2 linked regions of the Homo sapiens genome follow. The protein of the gene in region 1 purifies or fractionates together with the protein of each later gene. This does not show direct contact. Each region holds a gene or a part of one and is shown on either strand. Other genes may lie near its edges.

Region 1 (2,935 bases):
ATAATAATGCAACAATTAAAGTTGTATTAATTAAAAATACGGTATAACAACTAATAGCATTTACATTGTATCAGATATTACAATAATCTAGAGATGACTTAGTATGTGGGAGGATTTACGTAGTTTATATGCAAACACTACACCATTTTATATTAGTGACTTGAGCATCTGTGGATTTTGGTATCTGAGGAGGTCCAGGAACCAATTATTTCCCAGGGATGCCAAGAGGTGACTGTATTCTCAAAATAATCTGTAACCTCCAAAAAGTTAAGAGACACTGAGCTATGATATTTTTAGAATTGTGTTTTAAAGAACAAATCAGTACCTGATTTAATAAGTCACACTCAAGCTTAATTCAAACAGAAATATTAATTTGCAAAATATACAGATGCATATTCATCATGAGGCAGAAAGGCCTTTTAAATAGCTTTGAAAATGTGGAACATCAATTTGTGTTGTTCTTCCATGGGAGAAAAAGGATTACTAAGTCTCAGGTAAGCCTCCAAAAAATATTTCCATCTGCCCCTGGCTTCCGTACTATCCAAGCTTGTCTTGAAACCTTGAAATAAATTTCAAGGTGACAACCTAAATTTAACTCTGCGGTAGTGGGTTGTGGATTTCTCAGCATTTTCCTTTTTAGTTAGCATGGAAGTCAAAAGTTACAAAAGCAATGAGATTCTGCATCTTTTAATGAAAGATAAAACAACAATATAAACATACACAAATTTACAGAGAAGGGATCAACTTTAATACATTTGGAGTAAAAGGTGTTTCTTCTTTAAATATGGTATAAAAATAAATGCGAGAAACATTAACGGAGAATGTACAGACAACAGACGAAGACATGAGTTTGTTTCTGACTGTGACACATTGGTGAAATGAAACTTTCTGTGCGGAATTTATTGTTTAATAAATGTGAAGCCACATGTATACTTATTGATATATACTTTTTTCTTTTACAGTTCTTCCAGTTTTTGACTGACTGAATTTTCAGTGAACTGTGTGTCTAACTGAAGCTTTGAGAGAGAGAGAGAGAGAAAGAAGGAAAAAAAGAAAAGGTTTTACTTCACTTGAACTTGTTAAAAAGGAAGAGACACAGATCCAGCATAGTAGAAGGAGAAAGAAAGCAGACAACAGTTTGGAATGGAGGCATTGAGACGGAAGAGTCCATTGGAGATGGAATGTACACACAAAAATAACAATTTAGGTCCTTTGCTCATGCAACATCTTGTTCTAATGTCCTCTGCTCCAGGTCACAACATTGAGCTACAAAGTGTGTGCAGTGACTCCAGTCTGCATTCATGCTACAAGATGATCCGTTTAGTAAGACTGAGCAAGGCTTGTTAACCTCTTGGACGTGAGAGATTTCCCCTGAGAAAATATATAAAACAAGAGAAAAGAAAGAAAATCAAGTACGATCACTGAAAACCTGCTTAGTAGTAGCAACTATTTACTGTAGCTGATTTTTGTGCAAGGTCAACACTGAACCCTTTAAGTCCATCTTAGTTCAAACCTCATGACCAACCTGCCTTCCCCCCTCCCTCCCTCCACTGACACGTCAAACAAAACTATCCTCCCTCCCTCCACCCTCCTACCCCTCCCAAATCCTTCCTCCCCACTGCAAACAGACTGATGGTTTCACAGCACAGATTAGCAAATCATAAAACATATCCATAAATGCTCCATCAAGGCTTAGCAATGAAGCAACACCTAGGTTCCCAACTGATTATAAACATGTTACAACAAATCTTAGTAAGCTGCTCTGAAAGATAATGTGAGTGCATTCTTGTTCAATGGCTGAAATTAATGTCACATTTATAAATATCTAGAAATGTAGAGGATACGATTTAATTAAATAAAATGCAGTTTTTGAGGGTGTGATTCATGAAACTCAAGATTGAGTCTGTTCCCTATCTTACATAATAATGGATAAAAAGGTGCCAATTATATATCTGAAGATAAAAGTCTACTTGTTCCCTGTTTCTAGCTGTTGATGTCTTCCTGTTCTTTCCTACCTGACTTCTTCCAACCCTAATACAAGAAAAAATCTGTTCTATTCTGATTCCACAAATCATATGATTACATAAAGCACATACTTATGTTTTAGAAATCTTGTAAGTCAACAGTGTTGCTGTTAATCACAAGTACTCTAGAGAGATAAGAAATTTGAGACCGGGCGCAGTGGCTCACGCCTGTAATCCCAGCATTTTGGGAGGCTGAGGTGGGCAGATCACCTGAGGTCAGGAGTTCGAGACCAGCCTGGCCAACATGGTGAAACTCCGTCTCTACTAAAAGTACAAAAATAAGCCAGGCGTGGTGGCGGGCACCTGTAATCCCAGCTACTCAGGAGAATCACTTGAACCCAGGACGCGGAGGTTGCAGTGGGCTGAGATCGCGCCACTACACTCCAGCCTGGGTGACAAGAGCGAGACTCTGTCTCAAAAAAAAAAATAGAAATTTGAAACGTTTGATCGGAATGCAAAACTGCTGGTTTTCATTTCATGTCTTATTTTATATGTTCTATTATAAAATTATGTGGGCCAGTTATTTAATGAATTTTTGTACATCTCAGAAGATAAGTAAAAATTAAAAAATTGGAAACATATATTTTAGTAATAAATCACAGTCATAGCAATACTCTTGATTTGCTACCTAATGTGGCTCAGTTTTAGAAAGGGGTCAGCGGTGATGGGAGATACATCATCACTCATGGCCATTGCCTTAGTCTGTTTGGGCTGCTATAACAGAAAACGATAGACTAAGTGGCTTATAAACAACAGAAATTTATTTCTTATAGGACTGGGAAGTCCAAGATCTAGACACTTATAGATTCTTTGTCTAGTGAGGGCCTTCTCCTTGGTTCATCAATGGTGCATTCTCGTTGTGTCCTCAGATAATGGAAGAAGGAAATAAGCTCCCTGGGACCTATCTGATA
Region 2 (3,500 bases), on another chromosome or scaffold:
CTCCATGAAAAACTGGACTGACTCAGGACCCAGGTATCCTGCCTCCTGTGTCCAGCACACCTGTGGGCACGGCCTGTCAAAGGATGCAACTGGGAGCCAGGCCTGGTGCCCGGGGAATTTGCCACGCCTGCCACTGTGGTGATGGGTGAGGCCAGTGGCGCAAGCCCGTGTGACTGGCAGACCCACCATGGCACTGTCCCAAGGGTCTGGCCTGAGCACCTCACTTTGCCTTGCAGCTTCTCAGCCCCAAGCGCTCTGCCCACGGCCATGCCTCATCAAGGGAGCCTGACCTCACTCATCTGCTGAGATGTCCCCTCTGCCCAGAACCACACATGGGGCTGAACTTGTGGCAACCACAGGGTAAGGGGCCAGAACCCTGGAGAGCACACAGATACACACTGGGAACAGGGTGGACGCAGCCGCCTGCGTACACACCTGCCTGCCCGTCCGTCATTCGTTTCCCCCAGGCACACCATCAACACCTAGGCACAGTTCCAGGGAGACCCCTGATGCGAGGAGGGGAGGGAGGCAAGCCCGCCTCCCCAGCTGCCTGAGGAAAGCCAAAGATCCTCTCTCTCAGAACACTCAGGCTCCTAGCACCATGGCCACTGCCTAGAGCTGTCCAGGTTCCCTGGCTGGGGCACAGGTCCAAAGCTAGAACCATTGTTGCTCTCCGCTGAACCTAAAGAATAAAGCTTGCCTTAGGACTGGGTGAAGCAAGGAGTGACCTCGGAGGCCAGTGCTCCCAAGTGGAGAGGCTGAGCCCTTGTCTCCCAGCATCACCCTCCCCTAGCCCCAGGGTACCCACAACTTCGTGACTCCTTGTTTGCCCCCACTCCCCCATCCCCAGGGTCAAAGGCCTCTCTCTTAAGGGCAGACTTGAAATCTGTGCTCAGGGAATCCTGCTGGGCAAGACAGCCCCTCCCTTGCCTGCCACGGCCTCCACCGCTGCCACTCCTGGCTGTGGCCCCCTTCGTGTGCTAGACCTTCTGTCCTGGCTGGGCCTCAGCACACTGCCCTGCTGCTTCACCCGGCTCCCCACCCTCTCCAGCAACTCCACTCTCAAGCCCCCACCGCTTCACACTGGGTCCAGGTCTCCCTCGGGCTGCGCCCATGCCACTGTGAAAGAATCCCAACACCTGCTTTTACGTCGTCCCCTTTCCACCAGGACCTGGGATTATCCCTTCTAAACAGCTCTTAACCCCATCTCTGCCAGATTTGCAGACTCAAGATGGGGTTGCAGGGGTGGCTGCTGTTCCTGGACCTATATGCTGGTAGGAGACTGGTGCTGGCAGGAGCTTCATGGATTTGCCAAACTATCACATGGATTGATCATGGATGCCCGGCGGAGCCTCACACTCTCTTGCCCTGTGGCCTCCACACCCTGAGTACTTCAGGCATGGGACATGACACCTGCACTCCACACCCTGTTCCCTCTGCCCCCACCTTGCTGGAGCTGCCTCAGTTATCGTGCAGCAGGGCCAGGCCTGCGCCTGGTTCCCTTTCTGGCTGCAGACTGTCCTGGACCTCACGAGTCCTCTTGCTTCCAGGAACCCACGACAGCAGGAACAAGCAGAGGAAAACCCCCGGCCCCACTTACTGTCTGGTTATCCTCGTAGAGTTTCAGGTCGTAGCCGCTGAGCTCCACACAGAAGATGATGGCTGTGACGCCCTCGAAGCAGTGGATCCACTTTTTGCGCTCTGACCTCTGCCCCCCCACGTCCACCATCTTGAAGGTGAGCTCCTTGAAGGTGAACTTGTTCTCCACAATGCCCGTGGTCATGTCCCGGGAGCGCAGGATGTCCTCGACAGTGGGGATATAGTCAGCTGCGGCGATGCGCTCCAGGTCGTTCAGGTAGTAGGCCGCGTTGTCCTCCAGGTGGTACTCGCTGGAGCGGCTGAAGCAGGCCTGTGCCCCTGGGTCGGCCCAGAGCCGTCGCATGACACCCAGCAGCTCGGGTGTGATCTCGCCCTTGCTCTCAGCGGGGCCCGTCAGCGCAAAGAGCTGCACAGCGTCGTAGGCGCGGTCGGGGTTGTGGAAGTCGATCCTGAGGGCGGCCAGGGCCCGGATGATGCGGGTCAGCGAGTCGATGGCATTGTAGATGATGAGGGGCTTGTACTCCTTGCAGGCCTCCAGGTTGAAGCCGCCGCTGTGGATGATCTTCATCTGTTTGACGATGGTGCTCTTGCCTGAGTTGCTGGTGCCCAGCAGGAGCAGCTTGATTTCGCGGCGTTGCCGCTGGCTCTCTGAGCGCAGGTGGCGGTCAATTCTCCGGGACCGCCGGGCTGCTTCTTTTTCCTCTGAGCTTTGCCGACATCCCATGGTCTGGCAGCAGCGGGCCCAGACAAGGAGCACGGGATGGGGCACCTCTCCCTCTTGCCACAGGGGACACTGAGACCAGGCAGACAAGAGCCCAGCTGCCCTGGAGGCACTCAGTGCCAGCAGGGGGGTGAGGCCGAGCCACACTGCAGCCCCTGCCCCAGCGCCTCTTCTCCAGCCGGCATGGCGCTCTGTGCAGCGGGCGGTGGCCGCCCCTCCCCACTAGTGACACTCCACCTCCCTAGTTGGCAAAGTGGCCTGATTTGCCGTAGTCATTCCCTGTCCTCGGCGACGGTGGGAAGCCGTCCGCTTGTGTTTGCCTCGGCTGCTGCCGTCTGGTTGCTGGTTGCTGTGGCGATGTTGCTGAGTGGCTGGAGGGTTGGAGGGCCGGTCGCTGGTGTGCTCCCTGCAGCCCCCCGCCTCCGGCTCCCACTGTGCATCCAGCCCTTCACCTGCCAAACACAGAGAAAAGCGTGAGCCTCCTCCCCGCAGCCCCACCTCAGGCTGGACAGTGAAAGGGAGCTCTTCTGAAAGCAAAGCAGCAGAGACTGGCCTTGGAAAATGAGCCGGCAACAATCCATCCAACCCCCTCTCCTCCATGGGGCGCTGTAGGGCCCACACCATGGTGTAACACATATGTCTGCTGTTGCCTGGACAGTCCACCTGAAGCCAGGTGCATGAGGGAGAGGAGGGTGTGTGCGAGGCCTCTGCCCACCCAGCCCCCATGCTGGACTCACTTCTACCGCATCCAGTTAGGATTCAATAAGGTCACCCTGTTGTGATGCCCCCTGGGGCCCTTCTCCCAGACAGCACTGATAGAGCTCAGCCTTGCCCTGTTTTACACGGGTGGCCAGGCCTCGGCCCAGCCCTGGGATAACTGAGCGCCTCCCTGACTCTCATTACCCCCGCAGGAGCTGGGTCACTTCTGATCACAGGGAGGAAAAGCACCAGGAGGGAGACCTGGCCCCTGCTTTCCCTTGAGGGCACTCTGATGGGCCAGCCCAGGAGCCAGCAGATAGGCAGGGACCAGAGCAAGGTGGAGGCTTCAGGCTGTGGGAGCACCGTGAGGTGCCTAAGCACAGTGGGCAGGGGCTGCCTCACTCCTGCAGAAGGAGGTAGAGGGGGGCTTGGGCTGAGACCAAGGAGCTGGGGGCTGCACGTGGTGCTGCGGGGAAATCCA

Evidence for each region. The genes of interacting proteins can lie anywhere in the genome.
Region 2: the proteins of RGS7 (region 1) and GNAZ purify together in Homo sapiens (affinity purification with western blotting, with the first as the bait; one study listed by BioGRID). This does not show direct contact.

Annotation. Positions count from the first base shown.
Region 1 is NC_000001.11:240,774,843-240,777,777, forward strand, and holds the end of RGS7 (regulator of G-protein signaling 7), read right to left. Parts: intron 1,372-2,935; coding exon of another isoform or gene 1,321-1,371; 3' UTR 672-1,320; downstream 1-671. UniProt on the Homo sapiens protein: GTPase activator component of the RGS7-GNB5 complex that regulates G protein-coupled receptor signaling cascades.
Region 2 is NC_000022.11:23,094,519-23,098,018, reverse strand, and holds part of GNAZ (guanine nucleotide-binding protein G(z) subunit alpha), read right to left. Parts: intron 2,773-3,500; 5' UTR 2,324-2,772; coding exon 1,601-2,323; intron 1-1,600. UniProt on the Homo sapiens protein: Guanine nucleotide-binding proteins (G proteins) are involved as modulators or transducers in various transmembrane signaling systems.